Regions from separate parts of the Homo sapiens genome. Here all the other regions are linked to region 1. A link means that fine-mapping ties the variant in region 1 to the plasma level of a protein whose gene starts in the linked region. Region 1 holds a variant in brackets. A gene starts in each other region. All regions are shown on their forward strands. Region 1 has its middle 14 kb from the start of ANO5. Region 2 holds the start of HSPB6 (heat shock protein family B (small) member 6). Region 3 holds the start of DUSP29 (dual specificity phosphatase 29).

What was found. A credible set is the group of variants that fine-mapping cannot tell apart. PIP is the posterior inclusion probability: the model's chance that the variant is causal. The UK Biobank Pharma Proteomics Project read protein levels with antibody pairs (Olink). The fine-mapping took linkage between variants from a reference panel, not from the people measured, so its PIPs are less certain.
Region 2: HSPB6 starts here. The variant in region 1 is the best candidate, but not a certain one, in a credible set for the plasma level of the HSPB6 protein (UK Biobank, PIP 0.62).
Region 3: it holds the start of DUSP29, and the variant in region 1 is the best candidate, but not a certain one, in a credible set for the plasma level of the DUSP29 protein (UK Biobank, PIP 0.69).

Annotation. Positions count from the first base shown.
Region 1 is chr11:22,175,438-22,183,616 of GRCh38, forward strand. No RefSeq gene overlaps it. Among named protein-coding and RNA genes, the nearest start is that of ANO5, 14 kb to the right of the region's middle. The variant CG/C (reference allele first, on the strand shown) is at 3,457.
Region 2 is chr19:35,753,907-35,762,085 of GRCh38, forward strand. It overlaps HSPB6 (heat shock protein family B (small) member 6), which reads right to left and starts at 3,123. Exons shown (of 3, transcript NM_144617.3): 1 at 2,905-3,123; 2 at 1,866-1,988; 3 at 660-1,777. The coding sequence starts at 3,102. The coding sequence ends at 1,616. It overlaps LIN37 (lin-37 DREAM MuvB core complex component), which reads left to right. Exons shown (of 9, transcript NM_019104.3): 7 at 111-251; 8 at 340-413; 9 at 487-613. The coding sequence ends at 568. It overlaps PROSER3 (proline and serine rich 3), which reads left to right and starts at 4,270. Exons shown (of 11, transcript NM_001367856.1): 1 at 4,270-4,320; 2 at 5,468-5,564; 3 at 5,883-6,085; 4 at 8,113-8,179. The coding sequence starts at 4,310. RefSeq lists enhancers at 3,375-3,946, 4,275-4,514, 4,555-4,614.
Region 3 is chr10:75,070,276-75,078,454 of GRCh38, forward strand. DUSP29 (dual specificity phosphatase 29) reads right to left here and starts at 3,367. Exons shown (of 4, transcript NM_001003892.3): 1 at 3,294-3,367. RefSeq lists an enhancer at 5,990-6,573.

The DNA.
Region 1 (8,179 bases):
GCAAAGAGGTGGTCATCTGCTAGCGAAGGAGAGAGGCCTTAGGAAAAACAAATGTGCTAAGCTTTTGATCTTGGACTTCTATCTCCAGAACTGTGAGACATTGTGAGACAATAAATTTATGTTGTTCGAGCCACGCAGTCAGCAGTATTTTGTTATAGTAGCCGTAGCAAATGAATAAATAGCATCTATGTATATTTGATTTATGTCTTAGGCCATTTGTACTGCTATAACAAAATACCTGAGGCTGAGTAATTTATAAAGAACAAAAATTTATTTTTCACAATTCTGGAGGCTAGGAAAGCCAACATTAAATTGCTGGTAAATTCAGGATCTAGTGAGGGCTCATTTCTCATGGATGGCACTGTCTAGATGTCCTTACATGGAAGAAATGCAAAACAGACCAAACTCCCTTCCCCAAGCCCTTTGATAAAGACACTAATCCATTCATGAGGGCAGAACCCTTATTGCCTAATCACCTCCTAAGGACCCCACCTCTTAAAACTGGTGCACTGAGGATTAAGTTTCAACATGAGCTTTGGGAGGGACACATTTAAACCATAGCAACATATCACTCTTAATTCCACAACATGCTCCTGTTCTCTGTTTCTGACCTTGAATTCATTCCTTAAGCTTAATTCACTGTCCTTTTCCTCTGCTATTGTTCTTGGTTTCTTTCCTTAGCTACAGTTGGCATCCCTTCTCTTTCAGCAGGTCTGCTTTTATCCTCTACAGGTACAGAAGACTAAATCCAAGAGGGTGTTAGGAACTCTCCTGATACCTGTTTCATGGGGATACTGCAATCACCAGATTCCATTCTTTTCCTTCTCAACCCAAATCCTGTGGCTAAAGCCCAGCAGCTACGCCTTATAAACTTCTCATCAACTAATATCCCTCCCAAGACAAAGAAGTGGACTTCCTCTAGGCATAAGAAATAATAACAAGTCATATGAAAGCTGGAGTACAAATTCGAAGACTACTGAGCACAATAGGACTAGCCTTGGGGAGGAGGCATTTATCTCTGACAACTTTATATTTGCTCTATGCCCACAATCCTGTCTTCATAATTGAGCGGTGCTATAACAAATTACCTGAGGCTGGGTAATTTATTTTTTTTTAAGAAGTTTATTTGGCTCACAATTCTGGTGGCTAGAAAGTCCAAGAGTATGGCATAGGCATCTGCTCAGTTTCTGGTGAGGGTCTCGTGCTGCTTCAACTCATGGCAGAAAAGCAGAAAGGAAAGTGAATGTGTACAAAGAGGGACCAAACAGTGGAGAAATTGTGCTTTACAATGCACTCTGGTGAAAATTAATCTATTCTCAAGAAAGCAAGAACTCACTCACTCCTGAGAGACAGAGACATCATTAATCTATTCATGAGGGATCTACTACCACCAACCAAAAGCCTCCCACTAGGCCCTACCTTCCAACACTGCTGCACTGGCAATTTGACTTCAACGTGAATTTTGGCAGGGACAAAACACATCCATAACATAGCAAATTATTTTCTTCTTTTTTTTTTTTTTTTTTTTTTTAGTTTTTCCTTATGCAGTGAATACATTTCCTGGAGGGGAGCTATTTGTGGGTATATAATATTTCACCCACTTTCCAAGAGTTCACTTTATATAAATTACTGTACATAGGGCTTTTGTTTTGGCTGGAGAACCTATTATTATTATTTTTTTTTGTAAGAGAGGTGCCGAGGCAATGGAAGAGATGAAGAGAGTACAGGCAATGGGACCATGTTTGCTGCCACAAAGCACATTAGATTGTGTGAGAGATACTAAGGGAGAGAGGAGTTAGGACCAGAGCATGACAGACCCTCTCACATGAGGGACTTAGTGAAAGTCTAAGAACTGGCACTGCTACTTTGAGCCTCAGTTGCCAGAAAGCTGAGGGAGAATCATTCTCCTCCCTTCCTTTCAATACCCTGCTTTGGCCTCCAGGGACATCAGCAGCTTCAGCTTGACTGGATGTGTACATCATCACAAGTATACAGAGGTTCATTCCGTTCCGGCTGTTGGATTACAACGAGGGAGAGATGAGCAAGTTGCAGCAGGGCCTAGATGCTGGCTGAAGCTGAACTGACAAAATACATTTTGATCGTGTTTTACAGACAATCTTTGAGGCATCAAATGATAAGAGGAGACACTTTCCTGGGAGAAGGGATGTGGGGGTATGTAAAAAAGACTGAGTGAAAACAATGTTAAGGGAGAACTTATTTTTTGGCCACGTACAGGGACCTCCAACTCCAGGATGATGTCATCCCAAGATCCTTAACTTATATATGATAAAGATCCTATTTTCAAATTAGGTCACATTCACAGGTCCTAGGGACTAGGACTTGGACATATGTTTTCAAGGAGACACTATTCAATCCACTAAATTCCCCTGTGGAAATGTTACTTCCATTGAGAATCACTATATTTTTCTGCAGTGTGTATTATCTAAACTTTAGTATTATTCTAGAAAAAAAAATTTACTTGAATTTCATTTTACAAAACACATTCTCTCTTTACCCACTCCCCATTCCTATGGGGTAGGAAGGCTCAAAATGCCTGCCAACTGCTCTGTGTTCCACTGCCTACCTACCAAGTTAGGCAGCTCCATGCAATTCATTATTCAGGCCACGACTGAGTGAACCATTTGCCTCTCTTCCTGGGTATTATCTAGACAACATTTTCCAGTTTCCTGGGCAGTTTGGTGTGGCCATGAGACTGAACTACCCAAAGGGATGTGAAAAGTGGTGCTTATCACTTCCAGTTAGCCCATCAAACCCTTCCTTAAGATCATACGCTCTCCTCTCTCCGCACAGTCCCCAACCCACCTGATACAGTTTGGCTGTGTCCCCGCTCCCAAATCTCATCTTGAATTGTAGCTCCTACAATCCTCATCTGTCCTGGGAGACCCAGTGGGAGGTAATTGAATCATGGAGGTGATTACCTCCAGGCTGTTCTCCTGATAGTGAGTGAGTTCCCACGGGATCTGATGGTTTTTTTTTTTTTTTTTTATACTCTAAGTTCTAGGGTACATGTGCCCAATGTGCAGGTTTGTTACATATGTATACATGTGCCATGTTGGTGTGCTGCACCCATTAACTCGTCCTTTACATTAGGTATATCTCCTAATGCTATCCCTCCCCCCTCTCCCCATCGCATGACAGGTCTCGGTGTGTGATGTTCCCCTTCCTGTGTCCAAGTGTTCTCATTGTTCAATTCCCACCTATGAGTGAGAACATGTGGTGTTTGGTTTTTTTCCTTGCGAAAGTTTGCTGAGAATGAGATCTGATGGTTTTATAAAAGATTTTCCTCCACCTTCACTCTGTACTTCTTGCTGCTGCCATGTTAAGAAGGATGTCTTTGCTTCCCCCTCTGCCTTGATTGTAAGTTTTCTGAGGCCTCCCAAGCCATGCTGAACTGTGAGTCAATTAAACCTCTTTCCTTTATAAATTACCCTGTCT[CG/C]GGTATGTCTTTATTAGCATACCTGAGACAGGTATTAGTCTGTAAGAACAGACTAATACACCACCCCAGCCTAAATTTCTACCTTCAGGGCAAACATGAAAGCCTTGTGTTAATGATGGTAAATTTTTCATCAGTCTGGGTCTGATTTTTCATCAGATTGAGTAAAATAGAGCTCCCCAACACTAATCAGGAATACCATTTGGGAATTTAGTGGAGTAAGAAATACATTTTTCTTCCACTCAGTATTAAATGACCAAGATTTTGAGGATTATCTGTCGAAGAAGTCAGCATTCTCTTAATTAACACAAGCAACTAAGGTGGTGCACAATCTACTCAGTTAGATCTTTACCAATTAGGAAAGTTGAAATCCAGAGATACAGAATGGGGGTAGAGTGTTCTATGAAAAATTAGAGTAAAATTTAACTTTTCAAAGCGACCCATTAGACCCTGTGTAAAAGGGCCCTTTCCCCTCTTCCTCTCCTGACATTTACACCTTACTACGTTCCTCACGCTGGTCCCTTTCCTGGACTTAAACATATGCTCATTCCTACCTCAGGACTTTTGCATGCACTACATTCTCTACCTAGATTACTCCTCTTCAATTCTTTGTAAGATTGGTTTTTTATCATTCAAACTTCAGCTTAAACATAATCTTCCCAGAGAAGCCTTCCTAAATATCCCTGTGTAAACTCTATGTAATCACACTCGTGTACCCAACCCAATAATTTTCCACATTACTCTGATATATTGTTTCTATAACTTTTTGAAATGATAATTTTATTTTTTTTACCTGTTTATTTTCTCTCCCTAGGCACTAAAAAAGAAGTTACATTAGAATAAAGACTTTATTTGCCTTGTTCATTGTTATATCCCCAGAGCCAAGAACAATGCCAAGCAGCAGCTCAGTGATATTTAGTGAATGAATTAGTGAGGAGAGAAAAAAGGGAAAGAAAGAGAAAAATGGCAGGCACCCAAGAAGATCACTTGTTAAATACTTACAATAAATTTTCACCAGTTAAGTTCAGAGTATATCTTTTTCTTGTACTATAAAAAGATTTTATACTATACTATACCATACTAAACTCTTAGAGAATAATATTCTTTCAAATCATTTATCTGCATTTTAATGTACTTTCCATAGTAACTAGCACATTTCGCAAAGAAAAGTAGTCACTTCTGAATGAGAATACCAGAAGATGCTTGAGAAAAAGGTTTCACAGTCTGAAAACAGAGAATAGACAATTAGCTATTTTGGTTGCAGCAACACAGGGGGACTTAGGAAAAGACAATCAGGGCTCAAAGATTCAATGTTTAATAAGAGGGCCAGGCTTGAGAGAGAGACAGGAATCAAAGCAGTGACAATGGGCCCAGAAACGGGAAGCAGAATAACTATCTCTTGGCAGAAATAGTCTAGCCAGGACCCCCTACTATCCTCAGTATTCCTGCTGGCATTGTGACATGATTGAGCATGGCTCTTGTTCGATCCCATCTAACACCATGATGAATTAATTCTGACCTTTTATTCCTGTATCATTTGCTCAATTTCAAAGAGATAAATGAGAACATTTAATTGGCAAACTCTAGGTCATATGACCGATTCCCCTCAGCTGCTGGCTAATTAGCATCTGTGTTAGATGGTAGGAGGGCACCCTCAACTGAAAAAAAAAAAAATCCGAAAAACTCTGCTTACCAAAACACCAAGGCTTAAGTAGGCAGCGGGATGTTCCCAGACAATTGTCAGATGAGGTCAAGGTGAGGAGGAGAGAGTTTTGAGGGTAACAAGAAAGTTGTGATTCAATTTGGAATAGCCTTGCATGCCAGGTTCAAAAATGTAGTCTGTGTCCAGGAAAACATGTATTGATTATTTCCCTAATCAGATCGTAGTTTCCCTGAACGATTAGAAGGATAAAGTGTTTATCCCTCTGCCCCTACCCATCTTATACTGAAACTGCAGACATAAACAGCAAAAAGTACAATGCTTTATGCATCACAGCCAATCAATAAAATATGTTCAAGTAAAGCAGAATACAGAGGACTACAACTTGTCATCAATTTATAATAAAATAATATAAATGAAAAGTCAAAAGCAAGGCCACCTAAGAAAATTAGAAAGAATTTTTTCTCTATACTCTCCTATTTTCCTTTTTAAGATTGTAGATATACCTCTTCACCAACTTCTCCCCTTCCCTAGAAGATAATCAGAGTAATGGAAGAAATGGCACTTACATACGGAGTCTGACACCCATATTTCCAATCCATACTCTGCTACTTAGCAGCTATGTGACCATGGGAAAATCCTTAACCTTTCTGATCTTCAGCTTCATCATTCAAAAACTGGAACTCATACAAACTATCTCATTGTTGTGACTATCTAACCTGATAGGAAAGTCTGTATTTTCCCCCTCTATCTTCCCCTTAAGAAGTCATCAAATCCAGTCTTAACTGCCCAGCAATTAGCCAATGCTCCAGAATTCGTTTTCCTCCTCTCCAATCCTAGCATTCTTACCTAGCCTTATATTCTCACACACCATATGCATCTTAAAGAAGGTAATTTGTGTTTCAAAAGAATAAAAATTTAATCGTGCAATTAGTGGCAATTAGGGAAGTATCTTTGTTGGGGCACCCTCAGGGGTATTTCTATAACATTAACTGTAATCATTTATTCATAAGAACACATCTGCCAGATAGTAAGAGTTTTCAGCTAATAATATACAAAATTAATAAATCATTAGAAGGCAGAATAGCACAGAGAGAAATGGCATGACCTCTGGAGCCTATATACCTCTGTGAAAATCTTAGCTCTAGAACATACCAACTGTGTGATCTTCAGCAAGTTACTAAAACCCTCTGTGCCACAGTTTCCTTATCTGAAAAGGCAAGGGAATAGTATCTATTGTAAGAGGTTGTTATAAGAATTAAATGAGGGCCGGGCGCGGTGGCTCACGCCTGTAATTCCAGCATTTCGGGAGGCCGCGGCGGGCGGATCATGAGGTCAGGAGATCGAGACCATCCTGGCTAACACGGTGAAACCCTGTCTCTGCTAAAAATACAAAAAATTAGCCGGGCATGGTGGCGGGCGCCTGTAGTCCCAGCTACTCGGGAGGCTGAGGCAGGAGAATGGCTTGAACCCGGGAGGCGGAGCTTGCAGTGAGCCGAGATCGCGCCACAGCACCCCAGCCTGGGCGACAGTGCGAGACTCCGTCTCAAGAAAAAAAAAAAAAAAAAAAGAATTAAATGAGCTAATACATTATAGCTCTTAGAACAGTATCAGAGTCAGAACTGAAATCAGTTTGTTAAAATGATTAAGCAGAAGTTCCTTAAATGGAAAAAAAGATACAAACTTGTACTATTACCCTTCTTTTATTCAAAATGGTCAAACTTATAGTGTGAATAGATCTGCAAACTGACTGAGAGATAAACACCTCATGCTCCTACCAAATGAAGGTTAGTTATGCAAAGATTTAGGAAGTATGACACATACTAGTTTCTTATTCCTGCATTGAAAAGAAAAATGGATGACGCAAGTCAGACACAGACATCTTTAGACCCTCCCTCTCAGTCTCTCTCTCTCTCTCTCTCTCTCTCTCTCTCTCTCACACACACACACACACCCCATGCTTTTTTCTATCTCCTATACTAGCTCCATATCTTGTTGTCTGAATCAGTATAAATTTTTATACAAATTGAATTTTTAAACACTATAAAAACTATAGTATAATACAGTATAGTATAATGTAATAGCTATGAGCATTAGCTATGAGCCACACTTACGTTTCCTTGTTTGTAAAATGGGAACAATAACTACCTCATAGCATTATTGAGGGGATCAAATAGCAAAATGCTTTAAATTGTATTTTTTATAACAACCTGTTGAATTTATTTTACCAATTTTGTTGAGCAGATTGAGACAATGAAACATCAAGATACTTGAACAAGATAATTGGGAAGTGAAACATCCGTAATGGGTTAGAGAATTTCAGAGCCCTCAGCTCATCCAATCTTCACAACCACCCTCCAAAATGGTCTTATGCCCATTTCTAAACTGAAGCCCAGTAAGTATTGGAAGCTTATACAGGATTCTAAAGCTAGCAAGTGGCAGAGCTATGATGTAAACTCCAGTTTGCCCACCCTAATTGCCATGTGTTTTTGTTTTATTTGGTTTGGTTTCTCCAGTAGTTAGATGGAATCAAATGAAATTGAGATGAAATATGCCAAAAATAGTCACATTTGGCAATTCCATATAGTTCAATGTGTATTTAGAACTATACTGTGGAAAAATCATCACAACTCTTCACTAACACTCTTCTTTCTCTATCTTTTCCTTTACTTTTTTTTTCCAAATTCACAACCTAACATCCTACAGATATCAACACTGATTTGAACAGAAGACCATTAGAAAGGATTTTAGAGGAATAGAAGATATGATTTCTGCTTTCACATAACTACTATCTAGTTGGGTAGATATGCTAACCATGCAAGAAACTATCAAAGGGCAAAACAATGAAGGAGAAATTCAACTGCCCATCAATCAGTGAATATATATGTGTCATGCCCTATGCTTGTCTCTGGTGGATGCAGTGATAAGTAGAAGATACATGGTTCTTGTCCTCACAGAACAATGGCAGAGATAGTAGAAAACAAATAGTTACATAATTACAGATGTAATATGTTTTCAGAGTACCCATCACTTCTTTTCTCTGCTGACTAAACAACCCATCTACA
Region 2 (8,179 bases), not on the chromosome of region 1:
CGAGCCCCTCATGCCATTTGTTGCTGGGAAAGGCAGGAGGGATGAATGTGGATTCCCAGCCCCTCTGCTTTGACTCTCTTGGGCCTGGCATGGGGCCCTTGTGTCCCCAGGGCTCAGAGGTAACCAACAGCAAGAGTCGTGATGTGTACAAGCTGCCGCCACCCACACCCCCGGGGCCACCCGGAGATGCCTGCAGATCCCGCATCCCATCTCCACTGCAGCCTGAGATGCAGGGCACCCCTGACGATGAGGTGAGTATGCCAGGCTGGCCCAGGGTTATGGGGCACATGCGGTAGGGCTCAGGAATGGCCACTCAACCTGGCCTGTCTGTCCATGCAGCCCTCTGAGCCCGAGCCCTCACCCTCCACACTCATCTATCGCAACATGCAGCGCTGGAAACGCATCCGCCAGAGGTGAGCGTCCCCCAGCCTGCTTGCCCCTCGTAGGGCCCTTTGCAACTGCTGAGTCTCCCCTCTGCCTCCCCAGGTGGAAGGAGGCCTCTCATCGGAACCAGCTTCGTTACTCAGAAAGCATGAAGATCCTACGAGAGATGTACGAACGACAGTGATGTTCCCAGGTCCCCCCACACCAGTAAACATCCCCCAGCTCCACACTGGTGTCTGCTCCGGTCCCTCCTTCCTGGCCCAGGCACAAAGCAGTTGGCAGAGCTCTAGCACATTTATTGGGAGAGTAAGCCTGGGAAAGACTAAGGGAGTGGTGGCAGGGAGAAAGGCTGTGGGGAATCAGAGCGGGTGCTCAGTTGGGTCTTGAAGGAGAAGAGGAGGAGGGTGGGAGGTGGGTTGCCGAGGATATCTGGTTGAAGACTTGGGGGTCAAGACAAAGGGACTTAGGGGGATGGGGTCTGGTTAGAGTTGGGGAGGGGGCCTAGGACATCCGTGCAGAGTCTGGGGAGGTTGGGGTGGGAGAGTCTGTACAGTTTGGTGTTGGGTGTTCTAGTTGGCCTGGTGTCCAAGAGTTGGGGCAGTCGAAAAAGGGTTCCAGAGTCTGGTGTGGCTGGCTGGGGTTTCACGGCAGAAAATGGGCTGGAGGGGGCAGTTGTAGACTGTCTGGTTGCAGGGGAAGGATCGGGTCTTGGGAACCAGGCCTGGATGGTCTGGAGTGGGAGGTCTGTGCAGTCCAGGACGTTTGGGGGGTGGGGGGATTGTGCCTGACTGGCCTGGGGTTGGGGGAGGGCTGTCTACACCATAATTTGGTGTCAAAATAGGGAAGGGATGGAAATGTAGTACCCGGATGTCTTTGTAGAGGACTCAGAAGGAAGTAGAGGAGGGGTCTTAAGTGGGGCTATATGCCAAGAAAGTGGGTCGGTGGGGCTGAGACTGTCGGCTGAGGGTTAGGGTAGTGCTGGTAGGGTCTGGAAGCCGGGGAGTTGTCGGTGTGGGGTCGGAAAGCTGGAGGGGGTGTGAGAGCGAGGGTGTCAGTGGAAGGGTCTATGTTATCAAGGCAGTGTCCAGGATGGAGGTCAGGGCAGAATCCAGGAGTGGGTGAGAGGACAGTCCTTGGCGCACTCGGGACATCTGGCTGGGCGGAGTCAGATCGGCTTTAATAGAGGGAGCCTGAGGAGGCTCCCGGGGTGCGGGCGCGGCCCAGCCCCCTCCTACTTGGCTGCGGCTGGCGGTGGGGCCTGGGCCGACGCTGGTGCGGCCTGGATGGACAGGACGCCCTCGGGGGACAGCGCGGACGTCACGGCAGCCGGATCCACGCCAGGCGGCAGGCGGTAGCGACGGTGGAACTCGCGCGCGACGAATCCGTGCTCATCCTGGAGGGGAGGGAGGCTTGAGCGGCCCCGCCCCTCCGGCCCGGCGGCGAGCGTACCCGCTCCAGCCCCGCCCCACGCCGCGGCTCACCGGGCGCTCCTCGTGGCGCGCGTGCACCTCCACGTGTTCGCCCACCACCTTGACAGCAATTTCCTCCGGCGAGAAGTGCTTCACGTCTAGCAGCACCGAAAAGTGGCCGGGGTCCGTCGGCACCTGAGCGCAGCGGGCGCGGGCGGGACTGTCATTGGGCTGGGCCAGGCTCCAGGACCCACCCAGGGAGACCCCACCCCCGTCGGTTCCGTGCCGCGGCTCACTCTGGCCTCCGGAGTTGAGCAGTCAGCTCTCCTACTGGGAGTCACCCAGGACCTCTTCACCCTGAACAACAGGGATACGCCCTCCCCCTGTAATATCTGGGATTGCCCTCTCCCCCGCAGTGATGAGGCTCCCTTCCCCTGCAAGGTCAGGAACCTCTGCCCTCCCCCGGTGTCAGCGAATCCGAAGTCATCGTGCCCCCCAGGGCACTGATTCCCCAGCTCCCTCCTCAGAGCCCCGGGTCCCTTCTCCGCCAGCCCCGCCAAACTCGCCAAGATGCCCCTTTCCCCGTCTCCAGGGTCCTCTGCCTACTCTCCCACTCGAGTCACGGGACCTCGGCAGCTACTGGTAGCCTTCCCCCACTTCAGAGTGGCCGGGAACCCTTCCTCAAGTCGCAGGGCCCTCTCCCCTCCTCTTCTGGAGATATCGGGCCACCGCACACAGTCTCTCAACTCTTCCCCGAGACTAAGAACATTCCTTCCCCTCAGGAGTCACTGCCCGCCTCCTTTTCCCCAGATTTCCCGGATCACCAGCCTCCTTCAGAGTAAGCAAGACTCCCCTTAGAGTGACCCAGGCCTTCCATTCTCTGGAGAGCTGAGAGCCCCCCACCCCGCCCCCCACCTAAGAGCGACGGGGACCTCCCACCCGCTGCAGTGTGCGGGCCTCAGATTCCCATTGACTCCGGAAGCCCTTCGGAGCTGCGGACTCTCCACCCCGCCCAAGGCCAACGAACATTCTCTCACATGTTCCCACCCCAGGCTGCCCCAGACCCCTGGCAATGGAAGTGGTCGAGTTCACCCCTCCCCAGGCCTGGCACCTGGGCGACGGGCAGCGCCACGCTGGGTGCGCGCAGGTAGTAGGGGGCGAGCGTGGTGGGGCAGAGCGCAGCCAGCTCGGCCTCCAGCAGCCCCTCGCCGAAGCGCTGGTCAAAGAGGCGTCCGGGCGCCGAAAGTCCGGGCAACGGGGCCGAGGCGCGGCGCAGCCAAGACGGCTGCACAGGCACAGGGATCTCCATCCTGCTCCTCCGCGTTGCAGTGCCCCTGCGTGCGCAGCCGCTCATTTATAGTGCGCCCTGTGCCGGCCCCTCGGAGGGCTGCCCAGGGACACTGGGACCGTGGCCAGACCCGGCCATTAGGAGAGCCTTATTTAGAAACCCAAACAATGACTTGGCCATTTATTAAGCGCCTGCTGGATGCCTGGCAAATGCTGTCAAGAAGGTGACATGAAGATTCCCCAATTTCCAGAAGAGGAAACTAAGGCTGAGGAGGGGGAGCCTTGCGGGTGTGGGGAGCACAGCGTGGTGATTGGGGCCCAGGACCCAAGAGGCCCACGGAAGAGTTTCCAGTCCCTTTAATCCACTGCCTCCCCCCTGGCAGCTCTGAGGATGACGCAGATGGAGGTCTTTAGGAGCAGATTCCTGGAGAATGCGGTAGCCCCGCCAGGATGTCAGGAGGACATAGAACAGGCCCTCCCTACCCTTATCCTCAGCCAGACCTTGGGCCCAGTCCCCCGGCAGGCCGGGCCTAATTCTGTGCCTCTGACTCAGCCTCTGGTGCGCAGAGGCCAGGGGGCGCGAGCATGAACAGTTCAGGCTGGCCCCCCGGGGGCCGCGCGCTGGGGCTGGAAATAGCTCATTTTGATCCCGCTACCTCGGCCAGGAGCCCAGACCTGGCAACTGATGCAACCAGCTGCTCCTGCAGCAAGAAAGAAGTTAGATGACCGTTGGGACGGACTGATTGGCCCAACTGATGGAGGAATAGCGGTTAGAGAGAGGGCAGAGCGCGCCCCCCCCCCAACCCGCCCCACTGCCCCTGCAACAGAAAGAATGGTAGTTAGACCGGGGTCGGGACAGGACTTCTGCAGCAAGAAGGCGCTTAAAAAGCGGGACTTTTAAGCGAGGGTACTTTAGATCACCTCCTAACCGCAAGCCCAGCCTCAGATCCTTCCCATTGGTGCACGGTCTTGCCAATTACTGCTACACTCGGCAGGTTCTCCAATCAAACACGCCCTGTCGGGCAGGCAGTCGTCCCAGCCAATCCTGAAACACCTCCCTCCGGGTACTTCTGTTTCCTCTCTTTCATTGGTCGCCTTGGAGGCCGCTCGCCTCCGGCGCGGGCACAGAGAGGGGCGGGGCTGATAGGGCGTTGCTAAGCGACGGAGATGCGCGCGGGGCCTGTTGGGTGAAGGAGCAGAGCGGCCGGAAGCGCGGAGGGAGCCGCGGGATGGACCGCAGGTGAGGCCGATCGCTCTTCCAGGGACTACAGGAGGCTGGGGAGGACCAACGGCGAGAGCAGCACAGCCTAGGACGGGCTGGATACGGTCTGGAGTCGCTAGGGCTCCACCGCACTGGAACTACAATTCCCAACATGCTCCACAGCCGTTGGCCTCTCCAGCCGTAGCCGTTAGCATCCCGGGGGTCCCCTAAGAGTCTTATGTTCCTCTCTGAGTGGGCCCCAAGGAATTATTGCCTCTAAAGGTGTCCAAGAAAGGCTTGAGATCTGAATTTCTTCATTTTGAAATGGCCCCCAGACACGCCTGGGCGTTGTCTTTGAACTTTCTCGCGGAGGCGGAGCCCAGTGGATCCTGGGGCTTGTAGTCCATCTACCCTTTGCCTTCGTGTCCCCCAGGAATGTATGGGAAATGCTCGGTGATATAATCCAGCCGCGGTTCTTTCTTTCTTTCTTTTTTTTTAAGACAGAGTCTCTCGCTCTGTTGGCCCAGACTGGAGTGCAGTGGCACAATCTTGGCTACTGCAACCTCTGCCCCCGGGTTAAAGCAATTCTCATGCCTCAGCCTCCCAGGTAGCTGGGACTACAGGCACCTGCCACCGCGCCTGGCTAATTTTTTATATTTTTAGTAGAGACGGGGTTTCGCCATGTTAGTAAGGCTGGTCTCGAACACCTGACCTCAAGTGATCCACCCGCCTCGGTGTAATCCCAAAGTGCTGGGATTACAGGCGTGAGCCACCACGCCCGGCGAGCCGCGATTCTTAACCTGAACTCCACTTCGCAATCACCTGGGACGCTGCGGAAAAGACACGGAGGCCCAGCCCCACTAATAGATATTCTGATTCTGTTGGTCTGGAATGGGAACCGCGCGCCTGTAACGTTGAAAAGCCCCTCCTAGACTGGATCCAGGGTTGAGAACCACCGGCTGTCAGTTCCTGAGTTGCTCCCTGTTAAGACTGCTCCAGGGGCGGGCTCCCAGGACTCACCCTTCCACTGTCGATATCCTGAATGTGCAACGGTGCTTCATGGAAATGACAGTCCGTCTCCTCCAGGAATCTATGGGAATTGTCTGGTTCTGCCCTCCTCTAATGTCCCCCTCCCCAGGGCTGCGGCGAAACCACGTGCTGCCTGAACCCCACTTTCCTCTTGCAGCCTGCCAGTTTTCTCCATTCAAGATAGTCCCTTTGGAGATGCGCCCCTGGGTCGAAGCCACTACTGGCCATCCCAGAGCCAGACCTGGTGTCCCAAGGTGAGGACACCCCTCAAAGAGTGCTGAGTGCCAGCCCAGTAGCAAGAGAATGACCTTTAGAGGGTAGGAAGACATGTGATGAGAGATAGGGATGAGAGATTTAAGAGACAGCCCCTTGTCCCCTCCCCACGGCCCTGCCCTTGTCCCCCTCTCTACCACCTGGATTCCCCATCTGAGCCCCCATCACACTAGGTTGTTATCATTACAGGATGTGTTTCCTCCCCTCTGGACTGAGACTTTGTGTGTGTCCTGGTTCCCCTGCAGGGATGACCCATGAGACCTCACACTTTTTCTTCTTGTGCTCTTCCCTGATCTTAGACCCTGAGCCCATCCAGGTCTCAGAGATCCAGGCTCCCACAAGCTCCCAAGGCTCTAGCCACAGGTCCCAACTCCCCTGAGCTGTTTGAGGAGTCCTGGCCATCCAGTTCAGGGACCCCCTCCCTGCCCAGCACCACTGAGGGACAGATGTGGGCCTCCCCAGCACCCACCCTGATTGACAGCGGGGACTCCGTGGTGGCCAAGTAAGTACCAGCAGCCCTGGGGGAAAAAGAGGCTTTGGGTTAGAGGGAGGGAGAAGGCATGCAGTAATAATCATCATGGCCAGAGCTGTTTCTGCAGCACTCTTTTAGGACCAGGCAGTTTATGTGTGTTAAGAACTCTGGTGCTAGACTGCCTGAGTTCAAATCCCAGCTCTGTCATTTAACTCTCTGTATGATCTTGGCCTCAGTTTCTTTATCTCTTTTTATTTATTTATTTATTTGTTTAGAGACAGGGTCTCGCTCTGTTACTCAGGCTGGAGGTCAGTGGTACAATCACAGCTCACTATAACCTCAAACTCCTGGGCTCAAGCCGTCCTCCCACCTCAGCCTCCTGAGTTGCTGGGATTACGATGCATGCCACCACACCCAGCAAACCTCCCACCTTGGCCTCCAAAAAGTGCTGTGATTACAGGCCAGACGTACCATGCCCAGCCTCAGTTTATTTATCTCTAAATTGGGTGTTTTGTTTTGTTTTGTTTTTGTTTTTGTTTTTTTGATGGAGTTTCACTCTTGTTGCCCAAGTTGGAATGCAGTGGCATGATCTCGGCTTACTGCAACCTCTCCCTTCTGGGTTCAAGTGATTCTCCTGCCTCAGCCTCCCAAGTAGCTGGGATTACAGGTGCCCACCACCACACCTGGTTAATTTTGTGTATTTTTAGTAGAGATGGGGTTTCACCATGTTGGCCAGGCTGGTCTCAAACTCCTGACCTCAGGTGATCCACCTGCCTCAGCCTCCCAAAGTTCTGGGATTACAGGTGTGAGCCACTGCCAGGCCTAAATTGGGCATATTAATAGTACACATCCCCTAGGGCTGTTTTGAGCTTTCAGTGAGTTACTATATATAATGATCTCTAGCAGTGCTTCTCACATAGTCACCACTTAGATTTGTAGAATACAGGTTCAGCTGCTGTAACAAAGAGTCCCAAATTAATTATGGCTGAAACAAGATAGAATTTATTCCTCCCTCACCTGCAGTCCAGGCAGAAGCCACCAGGGATGATGTGGCAACCCGTAGTTGAGGTGTCAGGGACACAGGTTACTTCTGTCTTGTTGCTGTCCGAACTCTAGGCCGTTGCCCTTTCCTTCATGGTGCAAAATGGCTTTCAACCACATCAGCTTTCCAAAATCACATTTCATACCCTGTTTGTCAAGAACTTAGTCACGTGGTCACAAGGCTACAAGGGTACCTGGTAAATATAGTCCATAGGAGACTGGCTGTGTGCCCAGCTAAAAGTTACATTCCTGGCTGGGCACAGTGACTCATTCCTGTAATCCCAGCACTTTGGGAAGCCAAAGTGGCAGGATCCCTTAAGCCCAGGAGTTCCTGACCAGCCTGGGCAACATGGCAAGACCCCGTTTCTACTAAAAATACAAAAATTGGCAGGGCTGCAGTGGCTCACGCCTGTAATTCCAGCACTTTGGGAGGCCAAAGTGGGTGGATCACCTGAGATCAGGAGTTTGAGACCAGCCTGACCAACATGGTGAAACTCCGTCTCTACCAAATTAGCCGGGCGTGGTGGTGCATGCCTGTAATCCCAGTGACTTGGGAGGCTGAGGCAGAAGAATCACTTGAACCAGGAGGCAGAGGTTGCAGTGAGCCAAGATCACGCCATTGCACTCTAACCTGGGCAACAAGAGCAAAACTCCGTCTCAAAAAATAAACTAATTAATTACAAATAAATAAATAAATAAAAATACAAAAAGTAGCCGAGTGTGGTGGCATGCACCTGTGTCCCAGCTACCCAGGAGGCTGAGGAGAGAGGATTTCTTGAGCCCAGGAGTTGGGGGCTGCAGTGAGCTATGATTGCACCACTGCCCTCCAGCCTGGGTGACAGAGCGAGACCCTGTCTCAAAAACAGTTATGTGACTATATAAGAAAGAAAAGCAGATATTGAGGGATAGCTACCAGGCTCTGCCATGGTGCTTGGTAAACGTTGGCTGCTATAATTATTCTTATTATTATTTGGCTCTCCTCACTCCACTCACCTCCTATCCCCTGATGTTCACAGGTATATAAACAGGTTCCGCCAGGCTCAGCCCACCAGTCGAGAGGAGCGCCAGCCTGCAGGCCCAACC
Region 3 (8,179 bases), not on the chromosome of region 1:
CAACCCACCACAATAGATACTTCACTATATTCTTGGTCACAAAGTATAAGCTCCTGAGGGCATGCCTGGGCCTCTCAATTCTGTATGCTTCCCTCCCTAGAGTGGAGCACACAGTCATGTAAATTTGCAGCAAGCAGCTCTTATGGGCCTTGGAATCTCACTACCTGGGCTTCGGCTTCCTCATCTGTCAAATGGGGATAACTTGCACCTCACTGGTTGCTGAATTAAATGAGATAATGTAAGCCCTTGGCACATCCGCATGAGCTCAAAGAGGGTTTCAGGGAGCAGAGACAAGGAGGCGGCCTGGAGGGTGGGTGGGGAATTCCCAGCTGTACTGGGAGTTGTGTTCCCAACCGAGAATAGGAAAGAGTGGGTGGAGCAGTTTGGCCGGGGCGGAGGTCTTGGTAGGGAAGCTGTGGCGGAGGAGATGGACTCATGTGAGCCTGAGCATTGTCCTGTGGGTGACAGGACCCATCGCCTCCTGCGTGACATGCAAGAGAGTAGGAGAAAGGACTCTCCCCAGCTAGTCAGCCTCTGGTCGCTGTGTCAGGCTGCTAGGAGATCTGACCCCCTCGTTACTGTGGAACGGGTAGGCCCAGAAACGTGAATGGTCACCAGAAGAGGAGATTAAAACACCATCTGCTCTGAAATCAGGCCGAAGAGGACAAACAGCTAACTCCTGGCCCAGGAACCTGGAGTGGCTGTTTCCAGGCCGGGCCTCCCTGAGACAGGGGCCCTGGTTGGAGTTTAGGGGTTGAGAGGAGTAGGAGAGTGAGATGCCACCAGGCCTCTACCCCAATGAGAGGCACCAGAGCAAAGGGGCTACACCCCGAAACTCTGAGGCACGCTGGGTTCTGGCCTCTGCCCCTGTTTAGGCTGCATGACCTTGGGCAGAACACTTAGTATTTGTGTCTCCGTGTCCAATCTGAAATGGGGCTGTGCTGTCCATCCCTCATTAAGCTGCTGCAATTCTGAGGAATAAATGATTCCTGCTTGTCAGGAAAGCTCTTGGAACAGTGCCAGACACATAGCACAGGAAACACCGCCAGGCCTCGGGGCCGCAGTGTCTGGGGAAGGCTTGGTGGAGGCTGCTCACCCCCACCCTGGTGGACTCAACTGGGCCTCCCTGGGGCTGCTGGAAGATGCTCACAGCCCAGCCCCTGGCCTCAGGGCCTCCCCTAAGCCCCTCATCTACTGTGGGGTCAACAACAGCCACGGGAGTGCCACCCGCAGACAGGACCAGGTTCCCACCCAACCCAGGTGTCAGCCATGACTGAAATGTCCCCAGTAAGGGCTCCAGTTTGTCTGATGGCAGAGGACCACTGGCTCTCTCCTCACCCTCAGCGCAGATCTGCCTTTGCCCATGAAGATCCTTCAGAGCCAAGTGAGATCCTGATACCGGAGGAGGGCCAGGAAGTGCTGGGTAGAGAAAGGCAGGTCCCTGGCCAGGGCTCCACCTCCACAGACCCAGGTGAGGACAGGCACTCCTGCCTTCGCACCCAAATGTTATATTTTCCAAGACCACCCTGGCCCGCCACACCCCAATCCTGTGCCTATAAAAACCTGAGACACACAACCGGCTGGACGTACTGAGGAACACATAGGCAGAAGACACAAGCGGCTGGTTGTCAAAAGCGCGCCGGCAGAAGATCACGCCGACAGGCACTGGCAGGCCTGCAGGCCATTGACAAGCGGAATGATGCGGAGTTTGGCCAGAGCGGTTGGAGGAGAAGAGTCGGCTGCTGAGTGGCCCAACTCCAGGGAAAAACTGTCTCCCTTCTGGCTCCCCCATCTGCTGAGAGCTACTTCTACTCAATAAAACCTTGCACTCTTCTCCAAGCCCACATGTGATCTGATTCTTCCCCTACACCAAGGCAAGAAACCCCAGGATACAGAAATCCCTCTGTCCTTGTGATAAGGAAGGAGGTCTAATTGAGCCAGTTAACACAAGCCGCCTATAGACAGCAAACTAAAAGAGCACCCTGTAACACACACCCACTGGGGCTTCAGCTGTAAACATTCACCCCTAGACACTGCCATGGGGTCAGAGCCCCACAGCCTGCCCGTCTGTATGCTCCTCTAGAGGTCTGAGCAGCTGGGTACTGAACAAGCGAGCCACACCCCCGTCGCATGCCCTGTGAGAGGGACAAAGGAACCTTTCCTGTTTCACTCCCACTAACTCTCCTCAGACCCACCCCATGTCCACCCCAGCCTCCATGCCCAACGCGCCTTCCTTGTTAAGAACTCAGCTCAGAAGCCCTTCAAGTGTTGTTTATTAATGTCAGAGTCCTCGGATTTGTCGGTGGGACCAAATGATATTCTCATGATGAGAACAAGGAGGGATCACAAGCTAAAGGTGGGGGCAGCGGAAAAAACATCCAGGGCCAGGGACCCTCAGGTGCTGGCGGCCGTGAGTGTGGCAACCTCTCCAGACATCCTCCTCGTGCCCTTCCTCCTGTTCGCTGGAGCATTTTCCGCTTTCCCGAACGATCAGAGCCCCCGGGCCCAACTGTTCTTGGGTTCCAGGCCCATGAAGGGACCCCTGGGGTCACAGCACAAGGGCACCAGGGTCTAATGGGAGAGCCCTGGTCTGAGACGCAGGCCCGTCCCACTTCCTGCCCACACAGGTCTGAGACACAGGCCCATCCCGCCTCCTGCCCACACGCGGTACAGCCTACACTCTTGGTCCAGTGGCTCTGATCCTTCATGACCCAGTCCCACCCCCCATCTCTACCACGGCAGCGTCATCCCCAACCCCATCCTCCCACCAGGACTGAGAAATGCTCCCAAACCCGCCACTCTGTCCAAATGACGCTTTTGTGTTACCTGGGACACAGGGAGAATTCTCATCCCTGGAGCTTTAAGTACTTTCTTGTCTTTGATGCTGCCCTACACAGGATCCGAGTCACTCCAGGGCCTCTCTCTCTCTCGCCCCCGAGATTTCTCCCCCTTTACTGGCTAAATGGACAAACGTAGAACCTCGTTGGAATGTGGAATATGATACAATACATCCAATGCTTCACAAGGGCTCGATGAGCTTTAATCCACCCCATTATCCTTTAGAAATGGTCGTTGAACTGGAAGTTCAGATTTGGAGAAAGGGAAATGGAGAAAATTCCATGGTGTCTCTCGTAAAAGGACAGCAAGAAACCTTTCACACTAGAAGGAGGTCGGCTATTCCCCACAGCACCAGGAACAGGGTGGAAAAGGGGCTTCTAATCCCCACACCCAGGCCCCCAAAGAACACGTGGGTGAACCCAAGGGGTGCCGGCCTCCCCACCCAGCGGCCTTACCTGGGTGTGCCGGGGCCTGGCCGCGTCGGGAGGTTCTGGTCCGTGGGGCATGTAGCAGCCGCACGCCCAGCCACCCCCACTGGCAACAGAGGCCTATTTTTAGGGTCAGATCTGCTGACGCTGACCTTGCGTGCCGTCCAGTCTAAGAGGAGACCTATGACATCTGCTTGCAAAATGATTTTCCAGTGCGACCTGAAACCCTTGACTTAGGAAGCCCTGTACCTGAAGCCTACACGCTTGTCCCCGGCCCAGCCACAGAGGCAGGACATGTGGCCACCAGGGCAGGGACAGACAGGAATTTTCCAACTTTGTTTTCCTGGGATGGACGAAGCCAGGTGTCTACAGGCCCTGCCCTGAGCCCTGTCCCAGAACAGCTAGAACAGGGGAGGTTTGCCCACTGGCACAGCTCTCTATTCCAGTCTTTTCTGAGAGTTTGTGGAGCTATCTCTGGGAGGCCAATGGAATGGATGCCACATCACACAGGGTAATCAATGAAACTCTGGGCAGAGTTTGTGCTGTGTGGCTTCCAGTGAGACCCCAGCAAGCACCCAACCATGCTGGGCTTCAGTGGGGATAATGATCATAATATCCTCCTCTTACATTGCTATGAGGACTGAATGAGATAAAGAATTTGGTGGTATTAGAATATTTAACAGTCTCCAGTGAGCCAAGATTGTGCCACTGCACTCCAGCCTGGGTGACAAAGCAAGACCCTGTCTCAAAAAAAAAAAAAAAAAAAAAAAAAAAAAATATATATATATATATATATATATATATATTTAACGTTAACAGTCATTAACAGTCGTTCCCAGGTCTCTCTTCTTGGCCCTTTCTTCTGTCAACCTTCCTCCTCAATGGCTCCAGAGTTCTTTGCTCTGGGATCCCTCCCACCAAGCCCTACCAATGTAGCCCCGCTTTTTAATACTTACGGGCAAAATCCTGCCCAGTCTCCTCTAATTTTCTAGTAAAATCTTCCCAGGGCTTGCTACAGTTCCTTATAATGAATGACGTGGTTCTCCATTCGTATCCATCCTTGTCATCCTCTCTGGGGCATGCTTTAGTGTGTGAAGGACTGGGAGAAGTAGGGAAGGAAGCACCAGGCTCCCACATCTTTCACTTAACACAATCTTCTTGCATTGGGGTCATTATATTGTCCTCTGAAACTTTATTCACCCAACCAAAGATCTTCCTCACAATTTGCTACATTAGCTACTGCCAGTTTAATTTATAGCAATTATTTCTACTAGTACTATTCATTGCTAAGTGACTTAGCTTTTATTGATTTCTTGGTGTGAGGAAAATTCCCAAGGCAAATACACAGAATCTGAGTGTACAATGAAGTCAGAATGTCAGAGTCCAAATGTCCCTGCTGTCAAGTGCTGGAGTCAAAACAGCAAGGTCGAAAGGCCCTTCTGCACTTACCCCAAGAACTAAGGGAGTCAGAGATGCTGGAATTGCCAAAGATAGAGAAGAAAGATTTCTCCTTAGCTGAAAGCCTGGGGGGCAGCCCCAGCCCCAGTCAAGGGCTGAGGAAGCAAAAGGGAGCTCTGAAGATGCAGCTTCAGCAGGGAGCAAACATAACATATCTAAAGACATCTGAGCTAGCTAGATGACTGAGAGAGGGAGAGAGAGAGTATTTCACACCATCTAGGAAACGTTCAATGACTTAATTTACAGGAAGTCAAGAGGAGAATTTGGTGGGTTGTTGGATTATCACCTCCAGTAAAGTAGACCCTACATGTGGTTAACCAGAAGACTGATGGCCCCTCCTCTAATCCTTCACACATTAAAATAGGCCCAAAAGAGGGTGACAAGGATAGAGAAGGGTTAAAAAAAAAACAACCATCATTTACTATGGGGAACTGAAGGAAGCCCTGGGAAGGTTTTCTTAGAAAAGAGTGGTGGTGGTGGTAGAGGATACCTGGTCTGTCTTCGAGGAGCTAAGGGGAAACACCAACATTCTCTGCACAACACTAAGGGCAGAACCTGGACCTTGGGAGACACCCCAAGAGCTGCCTCATGTAGATGAAGGAAACACACCATCCCATCAAGATGGGAGCGAGCCAGGTAAGCATCAGTTGGACTGAGAGATGTGTCCAATTGTTCCCAACTCCAAGGAGATTTCCTAGGATTCTGTGAAAAAGCAAGCTCCATTCATGCAGGTCAAGTATAATCCTGTAGAAACAACTGTTACTGGCTGGGCGCAGTGGCTCACACCTGTAATCCCAGCACTTTGGGAGGCCGAGGCGGGCAGATCACTTGATGTCAAGAGTTCAAAACCAGCGGCCAACAGGGGAAACTAACATATGAAGTTTGCCGTCCTGGACCCAAACTTTTCTGGGTCCAGAAGATCCAGAGGCTTTTAGTGCCCTGTGGATACCTGAATATGCATGGAGGCTGAGTCCAGCTGCAGCCCAGGGGAGAGGCCTCCCTGCCCACCCAGAGGCCGGATCCAAGGGCTGTAAGTCTGCAGCTCTCCCAGACGGCTCTCTTTTCCTTCACATTAAAAAGCAAAGCAAAGCAAGAGAAACTGAGGCCTATGTTCTGCAGGAAGTCCAAAGCCCTCTCCAACATCTCAGAGGACTGTTTATCCCTGGGAAAAGAATAGTAGGATGGCTCTCATTTCTCCAAAGTCAATTCTGCTGTGGCCTCTCCACCCTTGCTGGCACTCTCTGGCCTATCACTCCTACAACCTCATTCTGAGCTTGACACCACCATCTTCTATTATTCCTCCATCACTCACCCAAGGGATTGTGTGGGGCAGAGGGATTGCAGCACAGAGCAGGAGACAAGTCCACATTCAAGGTTTAACCTCCCCATTCTTTGAAAATTATTGGCTAGGCCCCATCTCCAAGGACTTTCTGTGTCCTGCTGTGTTCATGAGGCTCCTCTCTGTACATGCGATTGTCACAGCCTTCCTTTTTCTTCATTCGTCATCTCTCCCCTCCTCTCTAGAGCCGAGTGCCTCAACAGGCTCGAGAGTCCTCCTATTGTCATGCAGAGCAGCTCAACTCCCTCTTAGTCTCAACCTCCCAGGCAGACTAAGCCTAGGGTGCCCCCATTCTCATCCAACAAGCTCACCCAGGTGGCTTGGTGGCGGGTGCTTGTAATCCAAGCTATTTGGGAGGCTGAGGCAAGAGAATTGCTTGAACCCGGGAGGCAGAAGTTGCAGTGAGGTTGCAGTGAGCCGAGATTGTGCCACTACACTGCAGCCTAGGAGACAGAGCGAGACTCCGTCTCAAAAAAAAAAAAAAGAAGAAGAATATGTAGGTGCTTTGTTCTCTTGGGATCTGGCTTTCAGCAGTGGCAAAGTGTGACTGTAACTCTACCCATTTTTGTAATTAAAACCATCCACAGGCCACAGAGAATGCTTTTCCCTTTCTCTTGCTCTGTGTTCTCAAAATCAAAGGTAACTAAATATGAATTAAATGAAGGTTGGTGGGCTGTGCTGCCACTGACCTTGGAGGTGGACACTGCTTTGGAGTACTAGGAGGATTTGAGCTATGGAAGGGCTTCCCGGTGAAGAAAGGGGGCTTATTCTATTTGTCAAGTATATCTACTCAGATAGTATAAAGGACCTGGTAGCGCTGAGCGTCCTGATGTCTGTGTTTCACCTCACAGTTCTGGGGGCACTCCAGAATTAGCATGGTATTCTGACAGTTGCAATAGCTGAGAAATATTTTCGTATATTACACAGTTCATAGTGGTTTTTTGTTTGTTTGTTTGAGACAGAGTTTTGCTCCTGTTGCCCAGGCTGGAGTGCAATGGCACAATCTTGGCTCACTGCAACCTCTGCCTCCCGGGTTCAAGTGATTCTCCTGCCTCAGCCTCCCAAATAGCTGGGATTACAAGCACCCGCCACCATGTCCAGCTAGTAGAGACGGGGTTTCACCATATTGGCCAAGCTGGTCTCGAACTTCTGACCTCAGGTGATCCACCTGCCTCGGCCTCCCAAAGTGCTGGGATTACAGGCGTGAACCACTTCACCCGGCCCCATAGTGTTCTTTAAAGCATATATATGTAGGTCTAGATGTAATGAGCGTAACACATAATGACAGTTCTTTACATTGGCTACTAGACTTGTAAATAGTTTCATTTTTATAATATTTTATTTATTTATTTATATTTGTTGAGATAGGGTGTCATTGTATCACCCAGGCTGGAGTGCAGTTGTGTGATCATAACTCACTGCAGCCTCGACCTCCCTGGTTCAATCGATCCCCCCACCTCAGCCTCCCAAGTAGCTGGGACCACATCCGTGCACCACCACGCCCAGCTAATTTTAAAATTTTTTTGTACAGATAAGGTCTCCCTATGTTGCCCAGGCTGGCCTTGAATTCTTGGGCTCAAGCAATCCTCCTACCTTGGCCTCCCAAAGTGCTGGGATTACAGGCATGAGCCACTACACCCAGCCTATAACAAAATTTTATGAGATTTAACAAAATTTTCAAAAAAATGACAAGATTTTCAGGTTCATTTAGATCATTTTGTCTTAAAACTTCGATAGTCAATGATTATATTTCTTTTTATTTTTAATAGAAACATTGAATATCTTAGAAAGAAAAGAACGCTTGAAAATTATATGAAAATAATTTTAGGTTTTTATTGTTTTTATTTAATTTGCTTTTTTTTTCTTCTTCTTGAGACAGAGTCTTGCTCTGTTACTCAGGCTGGAGTGCAGTGGCGCAATCTCAGCTCACTGCAACCTCCGTCACCTGGGCTCAAGCAATTCTCCCACCTTAGCCTCCCGAGTAGCTGGGACTACATCTGTGCAGCACCATGCCTGGCTAATTTTTGTTTGCATCTTTATGTAGAGATGGGGTTTCACCATATTGCCCAGGCTGGTCTCAAACTCCTGAGCCCAAGCAGTCCACCCAAGTGCTGAG